2 separate regions of the Homo sapiens genome follow, and region 2 is linked to region 1. Evidence: fine-mapped expression QTL. Tissue or cell type: whole blood. Region 1 holds a variant in brackets; the other region holds the start of a gene. All regions are shown on one strand. Distances are between the middles of the regions.

Region 1 (8,000 bases):
CCTTATTTATGCGATACACCAAATGAATACCCCCATCTGGTACTCATGAACCATGAATGAATGCAATATTTATTTACAATTTTTTTTTCTTTTTTTTTTTTTGAGACAGTCTCACTCTGTTGCCCAGGCTGGAGTGCAATGGCGGGATCTTGGCTCACTGCAACCTCCACCTCTTGGGTTCAAGCAGTTCTCCTGCCTCAGCCTCCCAAGTAGTTGGGACTACAGGCATGGGTCACCACACCTGGCTAATTTTTGTATTTTTAGTAGAGACGGGATTTCACCTTGTTGGCCAGGCTGATCTTGAACTCCTGACCTCAGGTGATCCACCCACCTCAGCCTCCCAAAGTGCTGGGATTACAGTCAAGCCACTGTGCTTGGCCTTATTTATAAAATTTGCCTTTGTTCTGTTGGGCTACTTGCTGCTAATATAATTACAAATTCAGACACTAAAACATACAACAATATAAGGTGATTATCCAGATAGTGAGATTATGCAGACATTCATGTTTTTTTGAGAGCACCACTGAAATGAAAACACAAATTTAAATTTTCTTACAGAGCACTTGTGGATCCTTTCAGAACTGGCAAGCCCTGGTTTGAGGAACACTGTATTACACCATTTGCAGAATGGTAGAAAGTTGAAGCAATGGGTGGGACAATATACGCGCAGATGGAAGGTATCTAAAGGAACAGGGCACAGGGGTGCTAAGTGTTGAGGAGGGGACAGAAATGTACTACTATGCTGGCAGAAATACCCGAGCAGTCAGGAAGAGATATAATAGGATCAAGGCAACAGGGCACTGGGGTGAAAAAGATGAAAAGGAGCAAGGGAAGTTAAAAAAAGGAGTAAATGGACAAGAAAACAAGTCACTTTGAAGCCAGTAGAGTACTAAAATTCCCTCCCTTCTCAAAATATCCCCCAATCACCAGGTTTATACATTGCTGACCATCTTCCTCAATAAGAACATTTTTGGCTATTTTTATTCATTCCTTAGAAGTGGCCTTGTAATCCAAAGAAAGCTCAAAGCCCCTGTATTCAATTTTTCCTTCTTAGACCTTAAGTACTGAACAACAGCAAAATCAGAACCTTCAGTACAGTGACCATCAAAACTTTGCCCCTGACCATCAAATTATTCAGGGGCAATTTGTTTTAGGAAGTAAAGGGTTCAAAGGAGGAGGCTTTCCCAAAGAAGCTGAGCTGTCTAGATGGGAGGCCCATTGTCCACATGACTGTTTTCTAGCCCAGCCCGTCATGTCGTGATACTACTAATAATCATGTAGAGACTCACCATGCCTGAGATAACAAGCTAGCAACAATGAATGCTTAATGACTAGTTAGAATCATACAGATATCCATAGGTCAGGACTATTTACTAAAAAAGGAATTGGGTACTAAACATGTCTATCATTGCCTGTCCTGCCCACAGCCCCTGCTGAATAAGCACAGACACGTTCTGTGTCACATGAGTCTTCTGCATATCAGCAATTGGTGAGTAGGAGACACCTGGAGCAATGGTGGTACAGCTAGAAAAGAACCATGGAAGAATGGTCCCGGGCCCAGGACATACTAAAGTTAAAAGGCCTTTAAGACTGAAAAGCGGGATGGCCGTTACGAAACTTCATAACCCTGCTGAGGTGATCAAGGAGCTCAGGCCCCCTGATTAGAAGGAACTGCATGCAATTTAAATACTACCCTGAGAAGTAAATCAGTCTTAGCCTTAAAGTTATCCAACCTGCAGTTCCACCAACCTAAAGCATCCCTTAGTTTTTCCACAGTCGTCCACTTTGATTTTGGCAAATGGATCCACAGGAGGAGCAGTAGGGAAGGGGTAACCTGGGCAGTGAGAATAAAGAAGGGTTAGAAAATCCAGTAACAACTGTTCCAATGAGAATTTTTAAAAATGTGTTGACTGTTTTTTCTCACACATATCGAGAAATGTTTGGGGACTCAGAAAATGGCTTTGATGAAGGCTAATCATCCCCTTCATGGGGGAGGGTGTAGGACACACACCTTTGGACCTAATCTTGCATGTGAACTGAGAGTAGGTGTGTCCTTTTCTCACTTTACAGGAGAGGAACCTGGGGCACTGAGAGAGGCACAATTTCATATAACCACGGGCTTACCGCTGTCCCCTGGGAGTTTGAGAATCACACGTTTAATACAATATACATGTTCTAAGAGAAAAAAGTTAACAGTGATACATTTATATACTTGATAGTGGGATTTTTCCATTTATATACTTGATAACAGGATTTTTCCATTCCATTTTCAACTTCCATTTTGCGTTAACCTGTAGGTAACATTTTCTTAGGTCACTAAATTCTTTGTTTTTGTTTTTTGTTGTTTTTGAGACAGAGTCTCCCTCTGTTGCCCAGGTTGGAGTGCAGTGGTGCCATCCTGGCTCACTGCAACCTGTCTCCTAGGTTCAAGGGATTCTCTTGTCTCAGCCTCCCGAGTAGCTGGGATTACAGGCGCCGGCCATCAAACCCGGCTAATTTTTGTATTTTTAGTAGAGACAGGGTTTCACCATATTGCCTAGGCTGGTCTCGAATTCCTGACCTCAAGTGATCCACAGTCCTCAGCCTCCCAAAGTGCTAGGGTTACAGGTATAAGCCACCGCACCCAACTTGTCGCTAAATTCTTTAAACACATAATTTCTAACAGTTGTCTATCTTTCTTATAAGATTACTTACCACCATAATGCATCAAACCATACACCATAATGCATCAAACCATACCATACCCAACTTGTCGCTAAATTCTTTAAACACATAATTTCTAACAGTTGTCTATCTTTCTTATAAGATTACTTACCACCATAATGCATCAAACCATACATTGAAGGGTAAGGCTGCATTATGCCTCCACTTTGTGAGAGAAATCTTTTCTCCTAGGCTGTTTACTCCACGTACACAGGAATCATGTGAGACTTATCTTGTATTCTCTGCCCAGCATAGTGCTTGGCACTGGACACTGAATAAATGATTGTCAAAGGAATAAATAAAATCACCCACAGACATTAGGAAATGTAAATCAGTACAAACTTTTAAAAATCATTCTATTTTATGAGTTTTTTTCTTGTTATTTTTAAGTTTTTTCTTTGGGATTTGTAATGCTACTTTTTTTAAAGTGAGGCTTTGCTAATTTTGTCCATTAGATTTATTATACTTTAAAAAAGCCACCAGGTCACACTTTTCTGGCACACTTCTGTGCACTCTGAATAGTCCATTTTTACTATCCTGGACCTTGATCACATCATAAAGTACAATCCTAACTTTTTACCACCAAAGTAGTTGGATCAAATGCATTACTTTTTCTAGTTTTATGCTTATTTTATGCTAAGTCCTATATCTGCTTCAGTACTAGAGACCAGGGATCCCCAATCCCTGGGCCACTAACCAGTACCAGTCCATGGCCTGTTAGGAACTAAGCCGCACAGCAGGAGGTGAGTGGCAGGCAAGCAAGCGAAGCTTCACCTGTATTTATAGCCACTCCCCATGGCTTGCATAACTGCCTGAGCTCCACCTCCTCTTAGATCAGCAGTGGCATTAGATTCTCATAGGAGTGCAGTCCCTATTGTGAACTGCATATGTGAAGGATGTAGGTTGTACGCTCCTTATGAGAATCTAATGCCTGATGATCTGCCACTGTCTCCCATCACCCCCAAATGAGACCTTCTAGTTGCAGGAAAACAAGCTCAGGGCTCCCACTGATTCTACATTATGGTGAGTTGTATAATTATTTCATTATATATTACAATGTCATAATAATAGAAATAAAGTGCACAATAAATGTAATGTACTTGAATCACCCAAAAACCTTCCCCTTGACCCAGTCCATGGAAAAATCGTCTTCCACTAAACCAGTCCTTGGTATCAAAAAGGCTGGGGTTCACTGCTATAGACTGAGTCCTGACTTGAACGAGTTTTGTTTTTTTCTGAATAGTTATTGAGCCACTACAAACTACTGTATGTTAAGCAGCTTCATATATCTTCTTCCTGTTACTTCTCACTACAGTCCTGAGGCCATTTGTCTCAGAATATTTATCCAGGAATTCAATGATTGTTCACTTACATGTTTTTGAAATTCTAGAGTTCACTGACAAAGACAATCTCTTTTAATGTTGCATCTGACTCAGGTTCCCCATCTTCTTCCATTTTCAAACATATCATCCTCACTACTTCCTGGCATCTAGAATAATACGTTAGCATACAGCAGATTTCCAGCTCAATAAATACCAGTTACTATTACTACTGGATTATTATCACTATTTTTTTTTTGAGACAGAGCCTTGCTCTGTTGCCCAGGCTGGAGTGAAGTGGCATAATCTCAGCTCACTGTAACCTCTGCCTCTTGGGTTCAAGCAATTCTCCTGCCTCAGCCTCCTGAGTAGCTGGGATTACAGGCACCCACGACCACGCCCGGCTAATTTTTGTATTTTTTGTAGAGACGGGGTTTCACCATGTTGGTCAGGCTGGTCTCGAACTGCTGACCTCGTGATCC[G/A]CCTGCCTCAGCCTCCCAAAGTGCTGGGATTACAGGCATGAGCCACTGCGCCTGGCCCTATTAAATTTTGTAAACTGGCCTGAGAAGTAATAACCATTGGGTACGATTGTCTCTTTAAGAACAACAAGTTTCAGCTGGGCATGGTGGCTCACACCTGTAATCCCAGCACTTTGGGAGGCCAAGGTGGGCAGATCATGAGGTCAGGAGATCGAGACCATCCTGGCTAACACAGTGAAACCCGTCTCTACTAAAAAATACAAAAAATTAGCTGGGCGTGGTGGTGGGCACCTGTAGTCCCAGCTACTCAGGAGGCTGAGGCAGGAGAATGGCATGAACCCGGGAGGTGGAGCGTGCAGTGAGCCAAGATCGCACCACTGCACTCCAGCCTGGGTGACAGAGAGAGACTCCATCTCAAAAAAAAAAAAAAAAAAAAAAAAAAAAAAAAAAAAAGAACAACAGGTTTCTAAACTCCAAATGAAAGCAAATTTTGGAACAAAGCTAGCTCATAAATGTTCTGAACTAGTTTATTCATGTTGGCAAATGGCTTCTCAGGACTTTTCTAGCACTAATTTTCTATTATCATATATGCTTCTAAAACTTGTAATAGGAACTTGTGTTCTGTCAAATGCACTTGGACATGCCTTTAATAACATTTTCCTCTTATATTGCAAACTGTTGAAAAATAAAGAATTTGGCCTTTGTCCCTGGTTTCTGGGAGACAAACTCTAAAACCTTGGAATTTCCCAAGTAATGGGAGTGTTTTTGTTCTTCATGAGCCCCTTGGATTACACCTGAGTTTATGCTGAGCAACGGGATGACTAAGAATAGAGGCTGGTCACTGGAAAAACCATGTAATTAGAAGGTTGGGGCTTTGTGCTAGACCTACCTATAGGGAGGGTTGTGGGGCTGGAGATTGAGTTTAACCATGTGGCCAAATGATTAAATCAATCATTCCAACATAGTGAGACCCCAATAAAAACTCTGGACACTGCGGCCCAGTGCAGCTTCCTGGTTGAACACATCGATGTGCTGGGAGGGCAATGTGATAATCCCACGAGGAGAAGGCATGGAAACTCTGCCTTTGGGAGCCTCTCAGACCTCACCCTATGTGTCTTTTCATTGACTGTTCCTGAGTTGTATCCTTTATAATAAAACTGTCATAGTAAAAATAGCACTTTTTTTTCCCTGAGTTCTGTGAAACATTCTAGCAAATAATAGAAGCTGAAGTGGGAAGCTTCTTCTATCTTGTGGGAAGACCCCACATTTATAGCCAGTTGGTCTGAGGTGTGGACAATCTTATTGTGAACTGTGCCCTTTCACTTGTGGGATCTGCACTAACTCTGGGTCATTAGTGTAGGAACTGAATTGCAGTACACCAGTCGGGAGTTGATACTGGAATATAAGCAGAGCAGAATTAGATTTTTTTCCTGAAATTAAATGATCTCTATTTGATATAAAATAAGTTTGGACCATGTGCCAATATTTAAGCTCTTGTCTCTCAGCTACAACCCAGCCTTCTATAGGCTGAGTACTCTGCAAACCATTTCTCCTTTGCCAGGTGCTTAGACTCTGCCAATAGCAAGCATTAGAGGAAGGCAGGAGGAGGGAAAGAGGACTGTTCCTTCCTGTGTGATTGCTGTTCCAATAAGCAAGTTCTCAGCAACTCTACTTCATCCTGGCAGTTGGCCTGAGTTCCCAGTTCGGTGCTAGGCTCCCAGAACCAACCTCATCCCATGCTGCTCTGAGGCATCAGCAGCAGCTGAGCACAGCCTCATTCTCAAAGGATGGGTCACAGCTCTGCGAGGTCCTGGTCTGGGACCTTTTTATAATCTCAAGCCCTTCTCTTTGCAACTCCAGCCCCAAGGATGGTAACTTTCCTGAAGTTATTTTCTGCATGCTATCTTGGTACTCCCTTTTTGCTTCTCCAGTCCCGCAACTTCTTGCTTAGACAATTCCCTGGGCTGGTCTTTTGTTTAAACAGCTAGTATGATTTCCATCTTTCTTACTGGAACTTGATTGATGCAGACTAAATGGATTAACCTTTCAATACTGATACAATGTGTTTGCCAAAACTGTAGCTTATTAGTACTTATCCGAAGGCTAGAAAATAAAGACATTCAATAGGATCTATGTTTTACATGCATTAGACAATTCTAATGGGAAATTATTTTAATTGTACAATTCTAAGTACCCTAGGTACACAGAATTAAATTGGTATTTCTTGATTTATGGAACACTCATTATCAGTCTATACAAAGCCAATCTTATATTTTTCCACCAATCCATCACTAACTCCATTTTCTTCCCCACCTTAGACACGAGGTCCAGCATATTTCATGCATAACCTTCTCCCAAGGATGGAAGTTTTAACAAAAAATGAACACTCTGACACATACGTCTTAGAAAAGCAATATTTTACTATGATAAACTGAAAGGACACATTAGCGATAATGGATAACAGACAATTTGGTGGTGGGGTAAGGTTCTCATCTCAGTCCATTCTATGTAGCATGGAATTCTGCCTGTCCAGGGTAAAGTCCTGCCAGGTTGCAAAAAGTTTTTCATATTCCCAAGATTATCATCCTGAAACTCTTGCATGATTACCTTACACGATAATTACCAAACTGCCTTCAGCAGATCCTGGATCTAAGGTTCAGGTTCCAGGCACAATTTCTCACTCTGCCAACAGCACCCCTTGCCATGCTGCCCACAGCTCCACTGCATTAGCCTGTTCATGGCCAGGCACAAAGCCTGGAAATGCCCAAACAGAGCTGACCAGTGAGGGCCCACTGAAACTTACCATTCACCTCTATGTTTATTTTTACATAGGTGTGCTCTTAATATATCACTTGTGTATGTTTTAATTTGCATAAATGACACTGTGCAGTACATCTCATTCTGTTTATTATTTCCCTTTGGAAATCTATCCACATATGTAAGACTGAATATTATTCAGTCATAAAAAATGAAGTACTGATACATGTTACAACATGGACGTACCTTGATTATATAATCTCATTTACATGAAATGTCTAGGATAAGGCTGGGCACAGTGGCTCATGCCTGTAATCCCAGCACTTTAGGAGGCTGAGGCAGGCAGATCACTTGAGGTCAGGAGTTCGAGACCAGCCTGGCCAACATGGTGAAACCCTGTTTCTACTAAAAATACAAAAATAAAAAAAGCACACCTGTAGTCCTAACTACTCAAGAGGCTGAGACAGGAGAATTGCTTGAACCTGGGAGGTGGAGGTTGCAGTGAGCTAAAATTGCACCACTGCACTCCAGCCTGGGCGACAGAGCAAGACTCCATCTCAAAAAAAAAAAAAAAAAGTCCAGGATACACAAATATTGAATCAGAAAGATTCGTGGTTGTCTCGAGCTGGGGTGGGGAGGAGGGAGATGAGGGACTGCAGAGTAGTAGCTAAAGGTATAGGATTTCTTTGGGGGATGATGCAAATGTTCTAAAATTGATTGTGGTGACAGATGCACAACCCTG
Region 2 (8,132 bases), 140 kb before region 1:
GATATTGCTACCATCTCCACGTTCCTCACCAACACTTATTCTCACTGTGGATTTTTTAGCTTGTAGTTCATTGAGTTCTAATGAAGTTGAATATCTTTTCCTATATCTTTTAGCTGTTTCCTCTTCTGTGAAATTATTTTTTGACCAATTTTTAATGGCTAATCTTTTTATTTTTTATTCATTGGAGTATTTTATTTATTCTAGGTACTACAAATCATTTGTTGGTTATTTGTGTTGGAATCATATTCTCCCACTTAATGACTTACGTTTTCCTTTTGATGAACAGAGGTTCTTTTTTTTTTTTTTTTTTTTTTTTTTTTTGAGACAGGGTCTCATTCTGTCACTCTGTCACCCAGGCTGAGTGAAGTGTTGTGATCACAGCTCACAGCAGGCTTAACCTCCCCAGCTCAAGCAATCCTCCCACCTCAGCCTCTAGAGTACCTGGGACCACAGGTGCATGCCATCACACCCGACTAATTTTTTGTATTTTTTGTAGAGACGGGGTTTCACCATGTTGCCCAGGCTGGTCTCAAAATCCTGGACTCAAATGATCTACCTACCTCAGCCTCCCAAAGAGCTGGGACTACAGGTGTGAGCCACTGCGCCTGGCCTAGGTTCTTCATTTTAAAGAAGTCGAATTTATCCATTTTTTTCTTAAGGTTTATACTTGTGGTATACTAACAAATCCTTTCCCAGCATAAGGTAATGAAGATACTGCCCTATTTTTTTTTTTCTAAAAGTGTTGTGAGCTTTTACTTTCATATTGTCTTTAATCCATCTGAAGTTGACTTTTTACTGGTATGAGACAGAGATCCAATTTCATAATTTCTATTTAGATATCCAATTGTCCCAGCTTAATTTTTTTTAAGTTCTTCCTTTCCCCACTGACCAGCAATGCCAATTGTCATTTACCGAGTTTCCATATATGTGTGGATCTGTTCTAGGGTTTTCTATTCTGTATCACAGGTCTATGTTTTTCAACCCTGTTCTGATACCCACATTGTCTTAATTACTATAGTTTTATAATGAGTCTTGAAATCTGGCAGAGCAAGTCCATCCACCTTGTTTCTCTTCTGCCTAATCTTGGCCCTTTGTGCTTTCATATAAACTTCAGAATTACTTTTATCAAGTTCTACTGAAAAATCTTGCTGAAATTTTCATGGAAATTGCATTAAATTGACCAATAGGGATAACTGATATGTCTATAATATGTCAACCTAGGCTTGAACACAGTACTTTTCTCCCATTTATTTAGATCCATGTTGGCTTTTGATAAAATTTTTAAATTTTCTCCATGAAGTTTGACCACTTTTGCTGTGTATACATAGAGATAGAGCTCTTTCTCTTTATATACATAGCAAAAGCAACATATTCTTAGGAAGCTCATATTTTGCTGTTACTGTTAATATAACTGGATTTTTTTAATAATTACTTTTTCTATTTTTTTTTATTATTTTTTAAAGACAGGGTCCTTGTTGGCCAGGCTGGAGCACAGTGGCGTGATCACAGCTAACTGCAGCCCTCAGCTGCTGGGCTCAAGCCATCCTCCCATTTTTTAGCCTCCTGAATAGCTGAGACTAGAGTAGCTGGGATTACAGGCACCAGCCAGTGCGCCTGTGCCTTGTTTGTTATCAATGTAGAAAAATGCAATTGATTTTAGTATCCTACACTCAGTGAACTTGCCAACACTCCTAATTTTTATAATTTACTTGTAGACTGTTTTGAGTTTTCTGCATAGGTTATTATATCACACTGAGACTTTTGGTTTTTCCTTTCCTATATTTATTCCTTTTATTTCTTCTCCTTGTCATATTACACTGGCTAGAATTTCCAGTGCAGTGCTGAGTAGAAGCATAGCAGGCACCCCACTCTGGTTTCTGGCTTTAAAGGAAATGTTTATTTTAAATTTGACTGTTGCTATGATGTTAAGTAAAAGTTTTCTGTAGATACTCTATCAGGTTAAGGACACTTTTTCCTAACACTAGTTCCCTAAGTGCTTCTTATCATTATTAGAAGCTGAATTTAGTTGAATGCTTTTTCTGCATCATTGTTAGGAAAATACATCTTTTATAATCTGTGAATGCAAAAAAAACTATACACATTTTTCTAATATTGATAAAATCTTGCATTCTTAGAATAAGGCCAGTAACCCAGGACTTTTCACTTGGAGAGTCAGAAGAAGCTAGATGATACCAGAATAGAAACTGTCTACTTTAAACCGTATAGTGCCAGTCCTACTTGTTTACCTCAAAACCCTGCCTCCTCCATGACATCACTGCTGACTCATCCATGCCTTCTCTGAGCTTTTAGAGTATGTACCATTGATGATGTTCATTTGACACTTTGCATGTGCTGTTCTATACATGACCTATCTACCAACTAGAATATAAGCCCCTCAAAAAACAGCAACAAATAAGCACACAATAAATCCTTGCTTAAAATGCTTAAAATATCCTTGTGGATGAGATGGTGAAACATGAGTTGGGTAATAATACAGCATTCTCAGAAAATGAGACTTGTGGACATATGAGTTTTCTGGAGAACTGCTGTTTTAATCTCCTAACACTGAAACTTTAAAATCATTCTAAATTGTACTTCCCTGCTTTGTTAACCGAGTATTCTGGCCATGCTTAATACACTTCTTGATTTTAACTTTTTCTTGTTAAGGACAGTCAATTATGAGGAATATCAGTTATGGTGTTGTGGTAGAGATGTAGCTGTAGATACACAATGTGTGGGATGCAAAACCTCAGCTGTGACCCTGAACAAGGCTTTAACTGGAAAAAGAAAAAAAAAAAAAGGCAGGCATTCTTCCCCTTTGGCATTGACCTCTAACTCTCAGCAGTGATTTATACTTTTCTTCCTCTGCTCTCCTACCCTTCTCTGGCTTCTTTTACCCCAGAGTTACACAATGCAGAGCTGTAAGACTGATACATTTTTAGCAGTGGATACTGTGAAAAGTTGCCATTTCTCCAGATTATGACTTTCTAGCTTGTTTTTCCACTATGTACCATCTTTTTCTCTAGATCTCATTACTGCTTCTAATCTCTAGAGAGGACACAGCATAGTGTAGCAAAGAGAACCTTCTGGAGCCAGGGTACCTGGATTCAAATCCCAGTTTGGCACTTATTGAAAGCCCTAACAACAAATTATTTAACCTCAGTATTCCTCAGTTTCCTCTCCCATACCACGAGAATATATACCAACTTCACATGATTGTTATGAGAATTAATGAGTTAATATTTACAAAGTGCTTAGAACCTGGCCTACCACATAGTAAGCATTACATAGGTGTTATTTAAAAAATGGATAAAATACTATCAACTTGAACTCCATCACTCTCTTATCTCTCTGCCTCTTAAAACTGCTCCAGTGTTTCTCGTTTTGGTTGTGTTGTGCTAGTGGAGATAGGCGAGGAGCGGAGGGTCTGACATTACTGAGGGATCCCAGTGCCCCTTCCCACTGGTCAGAGCCTCAATGAGACACAGGAAAAGGGAAGGAGAGTGTCAGATATATTCATCACTGCTCCGTTAGCCATGCGAAGGTGAAGAAAATAGGGATGTTTATTTAACCAGCATAACAGGAATCCAGGGACATGTGTAACTGCTGTTTTCAAATATGCGCAGGGCTGGGCAGGAGAAGAGATAATAGCATTTAGAATTCTATGCAACAGCTACAGGCTCCCCTTCACTGAACATGTTTAAGCAGGGTACTGGTGGCCAGGTGTCAAGGATGCTAAAGAAAGAATTTTTAGTCAGATAATCTTTAAGATTTCTTCTACCTCTAAAATCTTGGTAATCCTAGTATGAGTCACGAAGTGGTTACAACCTAGATGTGAGTCACACATCGCCAACGCGCTCCCGAAGGCACAGAATTCACTCCCCACAGTGCTTGGCATCTTACCACAGACCTAAGTGAGGAATTCTAGCCCTGAAGCTGCATATAACCCAGCTCAGAGAAACAAAAACTTTCCTAAAACTCAGGGCGTCGGTTAGCTGATTGGCAAATACAGTAACGCACACATCCCAAACGGGACTTGGCAAAACGGTGTGCATCTGGATTAACTGTCATACAGTCTCCACGTCACTCTTCCACGAGGCCGGACAGAAGCGGGCAGAAGTGAGCAGCAGCAGGTTCAGGGGAAGGGGTAGGGTGGCCGGGATGAATGGGAGGCCAGCGAACTGACCTACGGCGGGGAGGGACAAAGGATCAGGGAGCGCACGCTGGGCGGGGAGGCCGGGAGGAATACCCCAGGCGGAGGAGCCGGGCTCGGGACCAGGCTGCGAACTGGTGACAAAGTCGGTTATCGTGGAGGGCCCTAAGTACCAGCGAGGGGCCCCGCGGGGGTCCTCTCTGCCTCGGGAGCTGGGCTCAACCACTCGCCCCGCGGAGGGGGCATCGCCCGGCCGGGGGCACCCGGGAGCCGCAGACCCGAGGCAGGTACTGGGGGCAAAGGCCCAGGCCGGCACCCCCGCCCCGCAGCCTCCCCTGCTGCCGAGTCCACTCAACCCTGCCGCCGGAGTTTGGATTATCCAGTCTCTCGCCGCCCGGGCCGAGGCCCGTCCCGGAGCCCCACACAGGCGGTCCGACAAGAACGCCGCAGTGCCGGCGCGGAAAGTGGGGCAGCGGCTGCCTCCCGTCCGGTCGTGCGAGCGGCGGCCGCCATCGCGGGCCGCGGCGGGAAGGAGAAGAGGGGCCGCGCCAGGCGCCACTTTACCTGAGAAACCAGCGGGAGTAGCGTCTGCTCCACCGAGCGAGTTTTGATCTCCAGTCCCGAGTCGAGGGCGAAGCCCGAAGAGCCGGAGCCGTAGACTGCTCCGGCGCCGCCAACGCCGGCGGGTCCGGGAGAGGCGGCCATGGCCCTCGGTCTATCCCGCAGCCGGGACTCCGCGCCGCGGCGAGCCTGCCGCCAGTCAGCCCACCCGCCCGAGGCGGCGGCGACAGGACACTCGCGCCAACCGAGACCCCGCCCCCAGGGGCCCGCCCCCCCAGGGCTCCGCCGCCAACCCTGCGTCCCCGACGCCCGTCACCGTATGTCCCCGCCCACCCCCGGCCTCTGCCCCGCCCGCGCAGTCCAGCCTGGTGTGGGCTCCCTGCAACCCCACCCCCTAAGCCGGGTCCCGCCCCCACATGGCCCCGCCCTTATCTCTTCTCAGACCCCTTCCATGGGTTCCAGGCACCTTCTCGCCAGGGTGGCGAGGAGAAACAAAACACATCTGTCACACAGCCACATGGCCTCCTCTTACTTGGACAGACAAGCGTCCCCAGCAAAGCTTCCCGTCCTCTCGATAGGTGACTCGTCCTAAATCAGCTCTGAATTCCCGCAAAGACTTCTGGAAGCTGTGCTGGGGTTGAAACTGGTAGACCAAAACCAGAATCAAGTCTGTTGGGAGGGGCCTTTCCCCTGGGACGGGAATTCCAGTGGTAATGTCTTCCTGGGGCTTCTCCGGAAGGTCCAATTTCCACTCCACCCTGCTCATTCTTTCACCATGTATTTCTCACAAACACTTTGAGCTGGATTGAAGGGGAAACATTTGATAATGCAATCATTAATGGAGTATCTGGGTATTCGGCAGGAAGTCAGTATATCTTTCACACTACTGTTTAGACTTATTCAAAAGAAATTTAAAAGAAACATGAAAAAGCCTCATCTACTGTTCAACACTACTTCTTAAAACTATTTTTCGAAGTTTTTTCCTAGTGCCAGGCACAGAGCAGTTTCTTCATAACTGTTCATTGCATGAAAACACCAAGTGTGTATTTCTGACAACTCACTTGAGGGGAAGGGTAAGAATCAGTTCTGTAAGCACAACTCTGAGCTCGCACAGAGCCCCACGATGGGGGCGGGGAGCTGAAGACTCCTATTCTAAGGTCTCCAGGAGCAAGGCCAAAAGGAGGTTGTCAGCAGTATGCACGCCGTGAAGGAATTCCAGACTTAAGCAACAGACTGAGAAGCATGAAAAAATGTTTTGTCAACTACCATATCTGCCAGTGAGAACCTGTCAGAGTAAAAAAGAATCTGAGGCTGGCCAGTCCACCCGGACACCTTGGCCTGGATCATTTCTTCTTCCATAACACCAGATTGATGAGCTGGGTACATCAACCTGAGGCATAAGAAAGCTCTTTCCCAAGCACCGTTGAAAGGCGCTTCACAGTGCTTCAACCTGTAGCTTCAGCTTCATCAATCTACCAGTGCTGCACAGCTGTCTTTGGTATTGAAGATAGCCAAGCTTCAGCTTCTTTTTCTTCATTCAAAAAGGACAGGTCCTCAATCCAACTTTTTCTTCCAATTCTTCTCAGCCAACCATCTCACCACTTCCTTACCTATCACAAGGCCACCTTCCCCTGTGCACTGAGGGCCCTTGACCTCTTTAAGGCGCCCAGTGTCCACTTCCTGGACACACCTTCCCTTACGAAGTTGACAGTATCTCCTAAGAATTCAGTGTACACAATGGTGCCGGAGGAAATGGCATAACAGAAGGCCTAAGAGACGGATGGATTCATGAAACTTTGGCTTCACAAAAGATCAAGTTTTTCAACACACAGGAGATTAAGTTTACCACATGATTCATTCAACACTAGTAATTTTATTTCAAAATATAAATATTTCACATTAATAAAGAAGTTACATCAGTAGGTTGTCAAAGCAAGTTAGCTAAGAAACAGCATTTGTGTGAGAACAGAGGGTATTTATTGTATTCGAATATTCTTTTTTACTTTTGAATTGCCTCCTTCACCTGAGAACCCAGGGATGATACATTTTCAAAGAGTTATGTAAGCAATTACAACTCTATATCAAATCTTAGTTCAAAATCAAATTGTACTGGAAATACACTTCAGTTACCTAAATAAGTGGCACTGCAAAGGGCAAAGAAGGGTTTTCTTTGGGATGGCTACAATGAGAGTTACATCTGCTGGGTCTCTGCAATAAAAAATAAATGATATTTGATAATAAGCCAAAATTATCAGGATTTGCTTCCATACTTTTCACTGTAAAATAAAAAGCTAGCAAAAAGCTAGTAAGAAACCAGATGTCTAGTAAAGAACTCTGGACTTGGAGTCAGAAGTTCTGCAACTAAATTCTGGCTCCATCATTTTGTGGTATAAACTTAGGGGAATATCACCAAAAACTTTTCAGAGCCTCCAGAGCCCCCCCATCTGTACAATAAGGATAATATTGTCTGTCTCACAGGGCTGTTACAAAAGGTGTCTGAAAACTATAAAGTGCCATACAAAAGCATTATTAAAATGTAATATCAATATATCACCACTGTATTTGCACATTAGTTGATCCTTGAAAAACCTGCAAAATTAAACACAATACTGATTTTACACACCACAGGTGGAAAAGAATCTCTATACCTTAAGTATAGCTCTAAACAGCAAATATACTTGCTTTCTGGACTTCAAGATTTATTACACACTACATGGTACCACAGTAATAGATCTGCCATTCAGTATTTCCATTAGGGATGTCTTCTCAAAGAGTTGTAAACTTGATCAAGGGCCATGTTTCTCAAAGGACCCTGTAGTCCTTTGAGATGCTCTGAGGAATAAAGAAGGGGAGTGCAGTCTAAGGTCAAACAGTGTTTGTCCCCTTTTATAAATTCACAATGTGTAATAGCATGTTCAAAACTCTTAGAAGTCCTACAGTAAGGAAACAAACTCAGCATTCCTTCATTTTAATTGACCATGCAATCCCCCACCCCCAACACACACACACTTTTTTTCTTACATCTATTAACATCTCTTGGAACTACTGCTATATGGAACACATTTTGCCAAAAGCTGCTCAACCATGAAGAAAAGGAAAGAGAAGTAGAACAACGGACTGACAGAAAAAAAAGAACTCTATTCTATTCTGAATTCTGTTACTAACTGGCTGTATGTGTATGTCAGACAAGCCACTTAAACCTATGAATTTGGGTCTTTCTCTAGAAAGTGACAGGACCACCTAATTTTAGAAGTCCCATTCTAGCACAGAATTTCTGACTCTAGTAGACAGAACAACTTGATTTATAATTCTCTTAAACTATCAAAAATAACCAAACAGTGGCTGCAGACAGCATGTGTGTTTTTTTTTTTTTTTTTTTTTGCAGGTTCCCAATAATCGGTAAGTTAATAAAATGAAT

The links. PIP is the estimated chance that this variant, and not a neighbour inherited with it, causes the effect.
Region 2: CTNNAL1 starts here. The variant in region 1 is fine-mapped to the expression of CTNNAL1 in whole blood (TOPMed, PIP above 0.99).

What each region holds. Positions count from the first base shown.
Region 1 is chr9:109,147,887-109,155,886 of GRCh38, forward strand. FRRS1L (ferric chelate reductase 1 like) reads right to left here. Exons shown (of 5, transcript NM_014334.4): 2 at 1,750-1,834. Among named protein-coding and RNA genes, the nearest start is that of FRRS1L, 15 kb to the right of the region's middle. The variant G/A (reference allele first, on the strand shown) is at 4,505.
Region 2 is chr9:109,008,585-109,016,716 of GRCh38, forward strand. CTNNAL1 (catenin alpha like 1) reads right to left here and starts at 4,915. Exons shown (of 19, transcript NM_003798.4): 1 at 4,718-4,915. The coding sequence starts at 4,858. It overlaps TMEM245 (transmembrane protein 245), which reads right to left. Exons shown (of 18, transcript NM_032012.4): 18 at 6,551-8,132. RefSeq lists an enhancer at 4,103-4,606 and a silencer at 4,268-5,157.